Linked DNA regions of Homo sapiens: region 2 is linked to region 1. The links come from fine-mapping of genetic effects on gene expression. Tissue or cell type: whole blood. Region 1 holds a variant in brackets; the other region holds the start of a gene. All regions are shown on one strand. Distances are from middle to middle.

Region 1 (8,343 bases):
GATAATTTAATACATTCATATATTTTATAAAAATCAAATCATGTCATTAGGTATCCTTTACCTCAAATATTTCTTTATGCTAGAAACATTCAAATTATTCTCTTCTATTTTGAAATATACAATAGATTATTGTAAACTGTAGCCACCCTACTGATCTATTGAATCCTAGGTCTTATTTTTCCTGTCAAACTGTATGTTTATACCCATTCATCAACCTCTCTTTGTCCTCCCCCCACACTTCCTGGCCTCTGGTACCACTAATATACTCTCTATCTTCATGTGATCCACTTTTTTAGCTCCCACATGTAAGTGAGAACATGCGATAGTTGTTTTTCTGTGTTTGGCTTATTCACTTAACAAAATGACCTATGGTGCCATCTATGTTGTTGCAAATGACAAGATTTCATTCTTTTTATGGCTGAATAATATTATATATATCACATTTTCTTAATCTATTTATCCACTTCTGGGCACTTAGGTTGATTTCATATTTTGGCCATTATGAATATCTCTGCAGTAAACATGGGAAGGCAGATATCTCTTCAATATATTGGTTTACTTTCTTTTAGATATATACCCAGCAGTGGAACTTCTAGATCATATGATAGTTCTATTTTTAGTTTTTTGAGGAACCTTCATACAGTTTTCCATAGTAGCTGTACTAATTTATATTCCCACTAACAGTTTATCAGGGTTCCCCTTTCTCCACGTCTTCTCCAGCATCTTTTTACAGAAAAGATATTCTTGGCCAGGCGCAGTGGCTCATGCCTGTAATCCCAGCACTTTGGGAGGCCGAGGCTGGTGGATCACCTGAGGTTGGGAGTTTGAGACCAGCCTGGCCAACATGGTGAGACCCCATCTCTACTAAAAATACAAAAATCAGCCGGGCATGGTGGTGGGCGCCTGTAATCCCAGCTACTCAGGAGGCTGAGGCAGGAGAATCGCTTGAACCTGGAGATGGAGGTTGCAGTGAGTCAAGATTGCACCATTGCACTTCAGCCTGGGTGACAGGAGTGAAACTCTATCTCAAAAAAAAAAAAAAAAAAAAGATGTTCTCTATTTTTTTTGTAAAAAGCCATTTTAACTGGGATGAAATGATATCTCATTTAATTTTGATTTGCTTTTCTCTGATGATTAGTGACATTGAGCATTTTTTCATATCTCTGTTGACCATTTGTATGTCTTCTTTTGAGAAATATCTATTCAGATCTTTTGCCCATTTTTAAACTGGATTATTTGGTTTTTTGTTACAGAGTTGTTTGAGCTCCTTATATATTCTGGTTATTAATCCCTCGTCAGATTGATACTTTGCAAATATTTTCTCCTATTCTGTGGGTTGTCTCTTCACTTTGTTGATTGTTTCCATGGCTGTCCTGAAGCTTTTTAGCTTGACATAATCCCATTTTTCTATTTTTGGTTTGGTTGCCTATGCTTTTGAGGTCTTCCACAAAAAATCTCTTTGCCCAGACCAATGTCCTGGAATATTTCTCCAATGTTTTCTTCTAGTAGTTTCATAGTTTCAGGTCTTACATTTAAATGTTTAATCCATTTTTATTTGATTTTTTTATATGGTGAGAGATAGGGGTCTAGTTTCATTCATCTGCATGTGGTTATTTAGTTTTCCCAGAACCATTTATTGAAAGGACTGTTCTTTCCCCATTGTGTGTTCCTGGAGCCTTTGTCAAAAATGAGTTCTCTGTAAATGCATGGATTTATATCTAGGTTATCTATTCTGTTCCATTGGTCTTTGTGTCTCTTTTTATGCCAGTACTATGCTGATTTGGTTACTATAGCTTTGTACTACATTTTGTTTTTTTGTTTTATTTTAGAGACAGGATTTTTCTCTGGTGTCCAGGCTGGAGTGCAGTGGTATGATCATAGGTCACTGCAGCCTCAGTCTCCTTGGGCTCATGGGATCCTCCTGCTTCAGCCTCCTGAATAGCTGGGGCTATAGGTGTGTACCACCGTGGCCAGTTCGTAGTGTATTTTGAAGTCAGGAAATGTGATGCCTCCAGCTTCGTTCTTTTTACTCAGGCTTACTTTGGCTATTTGAGGTCTTTTGTAGTTCCGTATAAATTTTAGGATTTTTTTTCTATATCTATGAAGAATGCCTTTGCTATTTTGACAGAGATTGCACCAAATCTATAAATTGCTTTGGGTAATATTGTTATTTTAACAATATTAATTTTTCCAATACATAGCATGGGATATCTCTCCATTTTTTTGCATCCTCTTCAATTTATTTCATCAGTTTTATAGTTTTTCTTGTATAGATCTTTCACTTTGGTTACATCGATTCTTAGGTATTTTACATTCTTTGTAGCTGTTGGAAATGGGATTGCACTCAACTTCTTTTTCAGATTGTTTGCTGTTAGCGTATACAAATGCTACTGGGTTTTGTATGTTGAATTATCCTGCAACTTTACTGAATTCATTCATCAACTCTAACGGTTTTTTGTTGGAGTCCCTTTTTTTTTTTTTTTTTTTTTTGAGGAGGAGGAGGAGTCTTGCTTTTATCGCCCAGGCTGGAGTGCAATGGCACGATCTCAGCTCACTGCAACCTCCGCCTCCCGAGTTCAAGTGATTCTCCTGCCTCAGCCTCCCAAGTTAGCTGGGATTACAGGCACCTGCCACCACACCTGGCTAATTTTTTTTTTTTTTGTATTTTTAGTAGAGACAGCATTTCACCGTGTTGGCCAGGCTGGTCTCAAACTCCTGACCTCAGATGATCTGCCCACCTCGGCCTCCCAAAGTGCTGGGATTACAGGTATAAGCCACTGTGCCCGGCCTTTTTTTTTTTTTTAAGAGAGAGACAGGATCTCACTGTATTGCCCAGGCTGGTGTCGAACTCCTGGCCTCAAGCAATCCAACCACCTCAGCTTCCCAAAGTGTTAGGATTACAAGTGTAAGCCACCACGCCCCATGGAGTCTTTAGATTTTTCTAAGTAGAAGACCATGCCATCTGCAAACAAGGCTAATCTGACTTCTTCATTTCCAGTTTGGATGCCCTTCATTTCCTTCTCTTGCCTAATTGCTCTGGCCAGAACTCCCAATACTACATGGAATAAAAGTGGTAAAAGTGGGCATCCTTGTCTTGTTCCAGATCTTAGAGGAAAGGCTTTCAATTTTTCTCCATTTATTACAATGTTAGCTGTGAGTTTGTCATAGATAGCGTTTATTATTTTAAGGTATGTTGCCTCTATACCCAATATTTTAGGGCTTTTATAACACGATGTTGAATTTTTTTAGAAAGCTTTTTCAGGGTCTATTGAAATGATCATATATGGTTTTTGCTCTTGGTTCTGTTACTATGATGTGTCATGCATATTGATTTGTGCATGTTGAACCATCCTTGCATCCCTGGGATGAATCCCATCTGATCATGGTGAAAGATCTATACTCACAATATTGTACAACCATCACCACTATCTATTTCCAAAACTTTTTCATCACACCAAACAGAAACTCTGTACCTACCAAGCAATAACTCCTCATACTCCCTGACCCCAGCTCCTAGTATCCTCTATTCTGCTTTCTGTCTCCATGAATTTGCCTTTTCTAGGTATCTTACATAAATAGAATCATAAAATATTTGTCCCTTTGTGTCTGGTTTCTTTTACTTAGAAATGTTTTCAGGCTTCATCTATGTTGTCAAATATATCAGAATTTCATTCCTTTTTAAGGCTGGATAATATCCCTAACAGTGTGTGAGGATCTCAGTTTCTCCATTTCCTTACCAACAGTTGTTTTTCCTTTTAAAAAATTATCATAGCCATCCTAGGATCTGTCTAATTTTGTCACATAAGGTGTTACTGTGGAAAGGAGCACGGATCTACGCAGAAGTCCAAGCCTCATCACTAACAGACTAACAGTGTGAGGTGGACAATCCTGGAGCTCTTAGTGCCTCAGTTTCTTTCTCTGTAAAGTGGAGCTAATAATGCCTGCCTGGCAAAGCTGTATAGGTGGAGTGAAGATAATGATGCATATAAAATACTAGTACAGACTCTAGAATGTGGTAGCTATTATTTTCCACAGAATGTAAACTTAATGGAGGCAGAGATTTGGTCTGTTAGGCACACCTTAGTATCCCAA[C/T]CCCTGGAGCAGTGAGTGGCACTCAGTAGGCACTCCAAAAACATCTGCGGAATGAATGAATGAACTCTTAACAAGCAGGGCTATGTGGAAGTGAGTTGTCATGGATAGTGAGGACCCTGTTACTGGCAGTGTTCAAGCGTGATCTGCATAAACACTGAGTGGCGATTATGTACTGGGCCCCGTGGAATAATAGCAAGATGGAAACGCACCCACCTAGCCTTCAAAGAGCAAAGGCTACAGAGTTGTGGGGACTTAAGTCCCCCATAACTTATGATGCAAGCCATGCAGGCTCCTGGCAGAGTGGGGTCCCCAGGGAAGATAGCCAGGAGGGCTAGGGGCTTGAGCTGGAGCACCCTTGGGGCAGGTGGGGCCCTGACCCAGTGAGGCCAGCCTGGCTGCGGCCACCTACCCTGTGCCAGGTGCTGCCAGACCGCGACGGAAAGCGCTGCATGTTCTGTGTGAAGACAGCCAACCGCACGTATGAGATGAGCGCCTCAGACACGCGCCAGCGCCAGGAGTGGACAGCTGGTGAGTGCTCGCTAGGTGGCTTGGGTCTGGGTGGTCCTTAGGCGCCTCATCTGTGAAAAGGGGGTGATAATACTTTGTCCAGCGGGAGGTTGGAGAGTGGACTCGGGAAACTCCTAAGGCCCCTTTCGGGCCGTGTGCGAGGATCCTACTGACCCGCTCCCGCTCTTCGGCAGCCATCCAGATGGCGATCCGGCTGCAGGCCGAGGGGAAGACGTCCCTACACAAGGACCTGAAGCAGAAACGGCGCGAGCAGCGGGAGCAGCGGGAGCGGCGCCGGGCGGCCAAGGAAGAGGAGCTGCTGCGGCTGCAGCAGCTGCAGGAGGAGAAGGAGCGGAAGCTGCAGGAGCTGGAGCTGCTGCAGGAGGCGCAGCGGCAGGCCGAGCGGCTGCTGCAGGAGGAGGAGGAACGGCGCCGCAGCCAGCACCGCGAGCTGCAGCAGGCGCTCGAGGGCCAACTGCGCGAGGCGGAGCAGGTGGGGTTAGCTCCCGGCGCCGGGGACGGGACCGGTGGGCTGGGAGGCTGGCCAGGGGCGGAGCGCCGGGGGCGGGGCCTGGGCAGAGGGCGGAGCTCCTGGGTTGAGGGGCGTGCACTGGGGTGGAGCTTGAAATGAGGGATTGTTGGGACAGAGTCCGCGGGTTTGAAAAAGAGATTTGGGATGGGGCTTCCGCCAGGGACAGAACCTGGGGCTAGGAAAGGGGTGTGGGGCGAGGTCCGAGCCCGTGGATGGATGGGGCCTGGTTCGGAGACCTTGGCTGTGGGTTGGGGCTTGGGCAGAAGGAGCCGTTGAAGACCGTGTGATTGGGGATTAGACTGGACCAAGTTTGGACTAGACTTGAACTAAGTTTACAGTGAAACCAGTTTGAGAGGCAAGCGGGACGCGTATGGAGGCGGACTAGGTGTGCAGAGGCAATTAGATTTAGGATTTAAGAAACCTGGATCTGGAGTCAGAAACACGTAGATTCAATCCTAGCTCTGCTTCTTACGAGCCCCGTGATCCCAGGCAAGTTCATTTTACTGAGCCTTATCAGTAAAATGCTAATGCTAATAGAACTTTGCTCACAGAGGTACGGTGAGGATTAAATGAGGAAACACTTGTAGTGTCCAGTAACTTTTTGTTGTAATAATTGTAGTTATAGTCACATCCTTCCTAGCATCAGCCATGATTATAACATATTATTATATATTATAATAATTATTAAGTTAGTGCTAGGAAGGAGATGACCATATTTTTATATCTTATTTAATTATATAATGTTGTTTAATTACATGTTATATAATTATGATTAAGGTTGGTACTAGGAAGGAAATAACTTGAGCCCGTTTCCCCCACGTGGCATCTGTTCACCGACCATTATCTGTTCCAGTCAGGCTCTCAGAAAGGGGTCAGATCAGGAAACCCCAACATGAAGGAGTTCCCCAGACCCTCACCCCTAGGCAGCTTAGCAACATGCCCACCCCCTCCTCCTCCGCCCCCACGTGCCCCTTTTGACCTGGCTCTTGGTCCACCACCTCCCCCCTCCACAGGCCCGGGCCTCCATGCAGGCTGAGATGGAGCTGAAGGAGGAGGAGGCTGCCCGGCAGCGGCAGCGCATCAAGGAGCTGGAGGAGATGCAGCAGCGGTTGCAGGAGGCCCTGCAACTAGAGGTGAAAGCTCGGCGAGATGAAGAATCTGTGCGAATCGCTCAGACCAGGTAGGCCTGAGGAACCTCTTCTGGTTCTCTCACCACCCCTCCTGGAACACACCCCAGTTTTCCTGCTTGCTGTGCACCTGCAAGGTGCCTTGGCACTAGAGGCTACACAGTACACACTCACCCGGCAGACTGCTGGAAGAGGAGGAAGAGAAGCTGAAGCAGTTGATGCAGCTGAAGGAGGAGCAGGAGCGCTACATCGAACGGGCGCAGCAGGAGAAGGAAGAGCTGCAGCAGGAGATGGCACAGCAGAGCCGCTCCCTGCAGCAGGCCCAGCAGCAGCTGGAGGAGGTGCGGCAGAACCGGCAGAGGGCTGACGAGGATGTGGAGGTGAGGCCTGGGGTGGGATGGGGTGGAGGCTGGCAGGGTGAGCTCATTAGGGCACAGGCTCTGGAGCCAGGCTGCCTTCCCTCAAACCCTGGCCCTAGCAGCTGCTGGCTGTGTGACTTTGGACAAATGCCCAAACTTCTTGGAGTTAGTCTCTCACCTGGGAAACTGGTAATAGCGTTGTTATGAAGATTAAATGAGATGATACATGATACTTAGTACGTAGTAAGTGCTGAAGAAACATTTGCTGCTATCTTTGTTCACATCATTATTAATCTGGGGAAAAATTTTTCCTTCTACCCTTCCAAGCCCCTGTCTTGCTATCCTTGTACTTTGGCTCTACTCCTTGGAGCTTTAATCTCCATAAATTCAAACACAGAAATATGGAACATAGAAAGGGAAAATTCCTCCATGATCCCCCCCACCTCACAACCACTGCTAATGGCTCCGTGAAATGTTGAACAGAGGTTCTTGGATTAGGTGCTGGAAAGGTGGTGTAGTGCAGTGGCTTAGAGCTCAAGTGTATCCCTGGGCAAGTCACTTAACCTCTTTTGAACTTTTTTGTTGTTAACTTCTGCTCTGGAAGTTAAATAAGATAATAAATATGCTTAGCACATCTTAGCTGCTCAATAAACGGAAACTATTATTATGGTTACATTTTATCTTTTGGAAGTCCATGAGTCCCATGAAATTGGAGGCAAACTCTATTCATGTATGTATTAATAACTCTATGAGCATATATGGTTTTTCTCTGGGGAGATGATCAGTAGTCTTGGTCAGATTTTAAGCAGCCTGCGAACCTGAAAAGATCAAGACTCCATGCCATGGATGATGGTTCTGATCACTCCCCACTGGCCCTGTCCCCACAGGCTGCCCAGAGAAAACTGCGCCAGGCCAGCACCAACGTGAAACACTGGAATGTCCAGATGAACCGGCTGATGCATCCAATTGAGCCTGGAGGTGAGAAGGAATAGACTCTGGAGCTTTCCCTGGAGCTGGGAGGGAGAAAGGAGGGAGAAAGGTCTCCCTGGGAGACCTCCAGATCTCCCAGGGCCAGCAAAAGCAGGACTGGCAGTCAGGAGGCTCCCCTCTCCTCTGAGGGCTGAGGCAAGGCCCCTCGCCTCTCACCTTTGCATGCCTTTCTCCTTACTTGCCTGCCTTCTCTCTGCCAGATAAGCGTCCGGTCACCAGCAGCTCCTTCTCAGGCTTCCAGCCCCCTCTGCTTGCCCACCGTGACTCCTCCCTAAAGCGCCTGACCCGCTGGGGATCCCAGGGCAACAGGACCCCCTCGCCCAACAGCAATGAGCAGCAGAAGTCCCTCAATGGTGGGGATGAGGCTCCTGCCCCGGCTTCCACCCCTCAGGAAGATAAACTGGATCCAGCACCAGAAAATTAGCCTCTCTTAGCCCCTTGTTCTTCCCAATGTCATATCCACCAGGACCTGGCCACAGCTGGCCTGTGGGTGATCCCAGCTCTTACTAGGAGAGGGAGCTGAGGTCCTGGTGCCAGGGGCCCAGGCCCTCCAACCATAAACAGTCCAGGATGGAACCTGGTTCACCCTTCATACCAGCTCCAAGCCCCAGACCATGGGAGCTGTCTGGGATGTTGATCCTTGAGAACTTGGCCCTGTGCTTTAGACCCAAGGACCCGATTCTTGGGCTAGGAAAGAGAGAACAAGCAAGCCGGGGCTACCTGCCCCCAGGTGGCC
Region 2 (8,000 bases), 26 kb after region 1:
ACGGTTAAAATGTCGCTTTCTCTTTCTCCGTAGAAAGCCAGAGGAATTTGTGTTTTCTCCAGAGAGGGTGGGACAGAGGAGAGAATGGTGGGGCAGGAGGGAGAGTTAGTGATTTTGGAGGAGGCTAGAGGGTGCAGGGCCAGTTAGAAAACCTCAGCTGGGGGTGTGGAAAGGACTTCTAAAAACTTCTGAGGGGCCCCCTCCCCCTCCCCCGCTCCCTCTCCCCACGGTCTCCCTCTCTTTCCACGGTCTCCCTCTCATGCGGAGCCGAAGCTGGACTGTACTGCTGCCATCTCGGCTCACTGCAACCTCCCTGCCTGATTCTCCTGCCTCAGCCTGCCGAGTGCCTGCGATTGCAGGCACGCGTCGCCACGCCTGACTGGTTTTGGTGGAGACGGGGTTTCGCTGTGTTGGCCGGGCCGGTCTCCAGCCCCTAACCGCGAGTGATCCGCCAGCCTCGGCCTCCCGAGGTGCCGGGATTGCAGACGGAGTCTCGTTCACTCAGTGCTCAATGGTGCCCAGGCTGGAGTGCAGTGGCGTGATCTCGGCTCACTACAACCTACACCTCCCAGCCGCCTGCCTTGGCCTCCCAAAGTGCCGAGATTGCAGCCTCTGCCTGGCCGCCACCCCGTATGGGAAGTGAGGAGTGTCTCTGCCTGGCCGCCCATCGTCTGGGATGTGAGGAGCCCCTCTGCCTGGCTGCCCAGTCTGGAAAGTGAGGAGCGTCTCCGCCCGGCCGCCATCCCATCTAGGAAGTGAGGAGCGCCTCTTCCCGGCCGCCATCACATCTAGGAAGTGAGGAGCGTCTCTGCCCGGCCGCCCATCGTCTGAGATGTGGGGAGCGCCTCTGCCCCGCCGCCCCATCTGGGATATGAGGAGCGCCTCTGCCCGGCAGCGACCCCGTCTGGGAGGTGAAGAGCGTCTCTGCCCGGCCGCCCCGTCTGAGAAGTGAGGAGACCCTCTGCCTGGCAACCACCCCGTCTGAGAAGTGAGGAGCCCCTCCGCCCGGCAGCTGCCCCGTCTGAGAAGTGAGGAGCCTCTCCGCCCGGCAGCCACCCCATCTGGGAAGTGAGGAGCGTCTCCGCCCGGCAGCCACCCCGTCCGGGAGGGAGGTGGGGGGTCAGCCCCCCGCCCGGCCAGCCGCCCCGTCCGGGAGGGAGGTAGGGGGGTCAGCCCCCCACCCGGCCAGCCGCCCCGTCTGGGAGGTGAGGGGCGCCTCTGCCCGGCCGCCCCTACTGGGAAGTGAGGAGCCCCTCTGCCCGGCCACCACCCCGTCTGGGAGGTGTGCCCAACAGCTCATTGAGAACGGGCCAGGATGACAATGGCGACTTTGTGGAATAGAAAGGCGGGAAAGGTGGGGAAAAGATTGAGAAATCGGATGGTTGCCGTGTCTGTGTAGAAAGAAGTAGACATGGGAGACTTCTCATTTTGTTCTGCACTAAGAAAAATTCTTCTGCCTTGGGAAAAAAAAAAAAAAAAAACTTCTGAGGGGTGAGTTTAAACTGTTTGCCATGTATCATATGACCTCCCCCAGGGCCCAGAGTACCCTAATGTCTTTGTACTCGTCAATGTTTTGTGTGGGAAGGGTGCGGGCAGTCCTTAGGGAGAGCTGAGTTTCCTCTCCAGACTTCTGAACTGTGGTACGCAACAGCCTGGCAAAAGCAGAAACCCAGAGGCAGAGATATTTAGGAGAATATAAATCCCCAGATATTTGCAAATATGTTAAGGGAGGGACTCTGACTTTCACCGTCCATTTTTACCTCAATCTCAAAGGGCAAGGAGGTTGACATCTAAGTTACAAATATAATGCACAAGCATTTCAAAAAGTAGGGGAAAAAAAAGAAAAAGAAAAAGAGAAGCAGAAAGAAGGGGGAAAAAATCACTCATCCCTGCCAGGCACGGTGGCTCACGCCTGTAATTCCAGCACTTTGGGAGGCTAAGGTGGGAGGATAACTTGAGTCCAGGAGTTCAAGACCAGCCTGGGCAACATGGCAAAACCCTGTCTCTACTAAAATTACAATAATTAGCTGGGCGTGTGGCGCATGCCTGTAATCCCAGCTACTTGGGAGGTTGAGGCAGGATAATCGCTTGAACCCGGGAGGCGGAGGTTGCAGCGGGCTGAGATTGCGCAACTGCACTCCAGCAGGGGCGACAGAGTGAAACTGTGTCTCAAAAAAAAAAAAAAAAAAAAAAATCACTCATCCAGATAGCTAGGTGTGGCCTAAGGAGCTTGCGGCCTACGGAAGGTGTGGCCGAAGGAGAGGGGAGGGGTCATCTTTAATGATGATGGAGGGGAGGCATTGGTCATATACCTGAGAGTCAAGCTTTGTTCATCGTCAGATGAAAGCCAACTTCTTCCACCAGATTGCCTCCCAGCTGCTAGGTAGTTTCCTGTGGTACATCTTAAGCGGTAGGTTGGGATAATAGGTCCCTTCCAGGTCTTAAAGATGTGGATTAATAAGAACAGAATTTTCTACAACAATAAGGAGGATGTCCCCTATTTTAGGTGAATAAGCGTATTGCATAAGCACATGGGAAGAAAGGTTAAGAACTCTAAGACCGTAAATTTCCAGTTGTAGAAGCCTCTTGAAGGCGGAAAGCCCTTTTTTGAAAATTATAGGCGATATGATCTCCTCCAGTGGACCTAGCACTGGGTTAAGAGTCTCTCCAGACTTGTCACTGCAAGTCACGTACCTTTTCTAGGACTAAGTTTCTTCACTGGAAGATGAGGAGGTTGCACTAGATGACCTAGAAATTCCCTTCCAGCTTTAAATTCCCTCTTGTGTCACTTGCTGGACTTGTTCTACTGGACCTGGCGCTCCCCTGCTCCTCCCTTAGCTGCTACGTCCGCATCCCGCACCAGAGGGCGCCACAGGCTGGCCCGGGGCAGCGTGCGGTGGGCGGAGAGGCAGAATTAGGGGAGTCTCCAGGAGGCGTGGTGATTGGCCGCCGCCGGGCGGAAGGGGGCGTGGGGAGGGAAAGGCCGAGCAGCGCGGTGACGTCTCGCTGGCGGGGGCGGGGCCGGGCCGCGGAGCGTGTGACGCTGCGGCCGCCGCGGACCTGGGGATTAATGGGAAAAGTTTTGGCAGGAGCGGGAGAATTCTGCGGAGCCTGCGGGACGGCGGCGGTGGCGCCGTAGGCAGCCGGGACAGGTCAGTCCGAGACGAGAGAAGCGGTCAGGCAAGTGGCGGAGGGAAGCGCCGGGCCTGGGCCGAGGCGGCCAGCGGGACTGGGGCGCAAGGCCCGGCGGCGGGGAACGGGGTGCGGGGAGCTGCCGGGGTCCGCGGACAGCGTCACGGCGGCTTCCTGATGCTCCGGCCCGCTCCGGTCAGCCGTCGTGCGTTGCCATGTAGGCGCCCCGCTGACCCTGCGCCCCCCCGCCCTTGGACCCCCATAGCTGCTTGAGTGAGTCCGAAATACGGGCCTCCTTCCACCCTACTCTTTGCCCCCTCTTGGGCCTGGTGGCTTCGTCTTCTCCCACTTGTGAGAACCCCGTCTCAGGCCCGGGGGCCTCTCCCATTCCCCTCCCCTGCCTCTGACCTCTTCCTTCACCCGTTTCTGGTGTTCCTGAATCCACTGCCCTATCTAGCGAGAGTCTTCTCTGGGATCTTTTCCTCTGTCCCCCTCGTTATCCTTGTCTCCTGCCTTCATCCTCCCATCCTTGCTCTCTCAGGCTTTACTCTCTCTCCCCATCCCTGTCCCCTTCTTATCTGTGGTCTGATCCCTCCTAGTATTATGGGTCCCCATCCTCTTCCCCAGGGTGTTCCTAGGCTTTTTCCAACTCCGTGCCTGCAGTCCCTGTCTCCCTAAGACTCTCACCTTGGTTCCCTGAGAGGCCCTGTTTTTGCTCCTTTTTCCGATTTCCTTCGTATCAATTCTGTCCCCTACATTCCTGTCGCCCACCTCCTTTTCTCTCCCTGTTCCTTTCCCCTGCTTCAGGGAGAAGCCTTAGCTCCACACTCTACTCTACTTTCACTTGACCTGCAGTTGACATAACCATGGGGTGGGGGTGGAGGTGTTCAGACCTTGATCGAATTAAGAGGCTGATTGACTAAAGGAAATAACAGATTGTGTGGGAGAATGTACGTGGGTGTTGCATCAGAGATGATGTCCAATTTGTAGGCCATTCTTCTTATCTCAGCTTTAATACTTCCCCTTTATGGGGCTGTTGACTTCCAGGAACCCTTGGGGGAGACGGCGCTGAGCTGGATGTGTGCCACGGGTAGCCGGAGGCTTTGTCCAATTCTTTTCCCCTTCCAGGAACCGGGGTTTTGTGTCTTTCCACTCTGGATGTGTGGAATACACTTATACCATGATACCCCAGCCTCTCTCTGCCCTCACTCCCACCCTCCACCCTGTGCTCCATCCGAAAGGACTAAGAGAATTCTCCAGAAGCTGTGCTCCAGAAAATACTTGTGGTCCTCAACCTTTTTTCTGTGTACTGGCTCCAGAACTTTTTTTTTTCCCGTTTGAGTTTTGAAATAGATTGCTGGCCTGATAGCCCTGGGGCTGGCGGGCATCTGTCCCCTTTTATTATTGGTGGCTTGAAACAGCTGCTGATTTTCTCTCATATCTCTTTGACAATCTTTGGCCAACTGAATGTGCCTCTGATGTTGGTCACTGAACATGTTCTCTTGGAGTCTCTTCTCCCTCTTTTTTCTTTGTTCTTTTCTGAATCTAGGGAATCCAAATTGTCCCTCTTTTTCCCTGGGAGCTTAATTTCCTCTGTATCCAGGAGGAACGGCAATCCCAGAGCTCTGTTCCCTTTGCCCAGGCATAGTATGAGGTATCAGATTGATAACTACCCTGGTGGGCTGTGGGGCTGCAGTAGTTAGACCTTGTCAGGAACTTGAGCAGACACATCTGCTTCCAGTCACATAGATCATCTTCTCTGGGGCTTGAGAGCCCACCACCTTCCATGTGTGTCTGGATGTTTAACCTTACCAAGCAGAAGATTCTCGTCATATCCTTCAGTTTGAGCTCCTTTATTTGGCGTTGGTTCTCTAAAGAAGTATTCAAGAAATAACATATCCTTTGTTTCTACCCAGTCTGATCTTGGAGGATTCTGAAAGCGTGACCCACTCTCATGTTTAGAAATGAAGGCTCATTGTTTCACCTGGCCCCAGGTTTCTAGGGGCTCCTCTTTTGATGATTGTGCTGTCTTTGAGCCAGATTGGACATGGGAGTTGGCAACCTTTAGGAGCTGCGGTGGAGAGCCAAAGGAACCAGCTTGACCAGACTTTAAAGTTTTGTAATCCTCTTGTACACTGTTTTCTGTGAAAGCAATAGGATTGTGGATGGCCTGTTGTTGAGCCAGTCCCTTCTCCACTGACCCCCAGACCCCCTTTGCAGCACTTGCAAAGATTTGGGTAGACTGGACCAGAGGGTTTTCCTTGTTCCTGTGAATAGCATCTCTCCAGGGTTTTAGTGGATCATTCTAAAGAGGTAGAGGTCAAGTGTTGGACAGATTTTTAGTCTAGTCTCTGGCTTTCAAGGACTCCTCCTTACTCTTTTGAGCAGTTTGTTACTTCTGGCCGTGCTTACCCCTTAGTAGTGCTCTCTGCTGTGGTGGCAGGTGAGAGATTTGAGAACAGGTCAAGGCCAGTCCTTGTGGAGCAGCTTGGGCACCAGCAGCCCTAGATGGATAGCTTCTTGCAGTTTGTCCACTCTCATTTTCTGAGAAGGTAGTCATGATTGTCAATTACCAAATTCCTTCCCCATTCAGTGATTTTTGCAGAGTCTGGGTCTGGATTTTCTTTCCTTCTTTCTTTTCTGACACAAGGTTTTGTTCTATTGCCCAGGCTGGAGTGCAGTGGTGCTATCATAGTGCACTGTAACCTCGAACTCCTGGGCTCAAGGGATCTTCCTGCTTCAGCCTCCAGAGTAGCGGGGACTACAGGTGCACACCACCACACTCAGCTAATTAAAAAACAATTTTTTTGTAAAGACAGGCTCTCACAATGTCTCGAACTCCTGGCCTCAAGCAGTCCTCCTCACCTTGGCCTCTCAGAGCACTGAGATTACACTGACTGCTCGTTCAGGTGCCTTTCTCCTTGCCTCTTCACCATGGCCTTCTTGTGTGATATATGCCTTAACCCATTCAGGAAGAATTGCTCCTACTCAGCCTTTCAACCCGACCTGTGGTCCCTTAGACGCCTTCCCTTAGGGCCTGGTAAGAGGATAGACAGTGTAGAGCACTAGCCTGGGAAGCCATTAGGCCTCTGCTTTGGGCCTACAGCTGTCCTGACTGTTGTGCAAGCTGTCTTCAGGGCCTGCAGATTCTGGCACATCCTGGGATAGTGCAGCTCCTCTCTCTCAGGAGTTGGACCTGTCACTTTTTTTTCGTTTTTTTTTTTTTTTTTTTTGAGATGGAGTCTCGCTCTGTCGCCCAGGCTGGAGTGCAGTGGTGCGATCTTGGCTCACTGCAAGCTCCATCTCCCAGGTTCACGCCATTCTTCTGCCTCAGCCTCCTGAGTAGCTGGGACTACAGGCGCCCGCCACCACGCCTGGCTCATTTTTTTTTGTAGTTTTAGTAGAGACAGGGTTTCACCGTGTTAGTCGAGATGGTCTCGATTTCCTGACCTCGTGATCTGCCCGCCTCAGCCTCCCAAAGTGCTGGGATTACAGGCGTGAGCCACCACAACCAGCCTGGACCTGTCACTTCTAAGGGCTTCAGCTATATCCTGTCCCTGAGGCCCACCTCCCTGAGTGCTCTCTGCAGGCTGGGAAGCTGAACAGTGGTGCCTTGCTCCAGTGCCTCTGAAGGGCTTGGAAATTGCAGGACACAGCTTTACTGCTCAGCATTGCCCACACTGGAAACATTCTCTTCCTCCCTACCCAGGTCTCTGTGGGCTTTGTCCGTTCTGCCAGGCCCTTGCTTATATGATGTCAGAAGCCCTGTGCCCGGTGCCATTGTCAATGCCATGTCCCAGATTACCTAATGGCTGCTTCTTGGAGATGGTTTGGTGTCCATGCACATTTTTCTCTGCCGTTGGAGCCAGGGTGAGGAGCTGCTTGCAACAGCTGGATTCCAGGGTGTCAGAGGAGCCCTTGGAGCTTGCCTTGAGCCTGGCAGGGAGAACATGGCCCCTTGCATCAGGTTTCAGACATATGGGTCTTCTTCCTTGGCAGATGGCTCCTAGCCTTCATAACTCAGCAGGCTGGTGATTGGCATGTGACTCCAGTTCATTCTGCAGGGGCTTTGGTGAAGGCATCAACTATGACTCAGGACATCTTCATTTATGAGCTTCTACCCAGCTCCCTTCTTACCTTGCCTGCGCCTTCTGCGCCGACCTGATAAAATCAGCAAAGCCAGTGTCTGCTTACTTGGGAGTGAGCAGACTCCTTCCAGGATTGGGGAAATATTTGCTGACTCAGGCTCAGAATCACATCTCAGGGTGGTGTGTAAGGGACCGACGAGGAGCCAGATTACCTTAGGAACACTCTTTGAGTTACGGTGGGTATAACTTATTAGAGTTGCTTTGAGGGCCCCTGGCACCTGTCAGCTAAAGCTGTTGGGGTTTTTTCTATCCTGCAGTGTTGTACAGTGTTTTGGGCATGCACGTGATACTCACACAGTGGCTTCTGCTCACCAACAGATGAAGACAGATGCACCAACGAGGTAATCCCATTTTCTTTACTCAGGGGTCTCTGACCACCACTGACACAGGATCCAGATTTAAGATCCTGACCTTGAAGATGAAATAATTTCACTAGGGCTTATTCCCAGATTCCAGGTTCCTGTCACAGCATCTGGTACCAGTTGCTTATGCATAGTATAGGCATTTATTAAGTAATTATTGAAAGTCTATGGCTTACATAGTTTTTTCAGGAGCATGGAGATTCCCACCTTTGCGCCCATTAAAAGATAAACTCCACAGGGCAGGGAGTTGTTTTGCTGCCTGTTGTGTCTAGGATAGTGCCTGGCACAGAGGAGATAATGAATAAATTTTTGTTGAATGAGTAAATGAACGAACTTTCGTCTTTGCCTATATGGGTAC

What was found. PIP is the estimated chance that this variant, and not a neighbour inherited with it, causes the effect.
Region 2: it holds the start of PPARD, and the variant in region 1 is fine-mapped to the expression of PPARD in whole blood (TOPMed, PIP 0.95).

Annotation. Positions count from the first base shown.
Region 1 is chr6:35,313,380-35,321,722 of GRCh38, forward strand. DEF6 (DEF6 guanine nucleotide exchange factor) reads left to right here. Exons shown (of 11, transcript NM_022047.4): 6 at 4,512-4,620; 7 at 4,794-5,092; 8 at 6,145-6,311; 9 at 6,440-6,638; 10 at 7,505-7,595; 11 at 7,808-8,343. The coding sequence ends at 8,031. Among named protein-coding and RNA genes, the nearest start is that of DEF6, 20 kb to the left of the region's middle. The variant C/T (reference allele first, on the strand shown) is at 4,093.
Region 2 is chr6:35,339,530-35,347,529 of GRCh38, forward strand. PPARD (peroxisome proliferator activated receptor delta) reads left to right here and starts at 3,029. Exons shown (of 8, transcript NM_006238.5): 1 at 3,029-3,152; 2 at 7,538-7,621. RefSeq lists silencers at 2,881-3,090, 3,271-3,410, 3,441-3,490.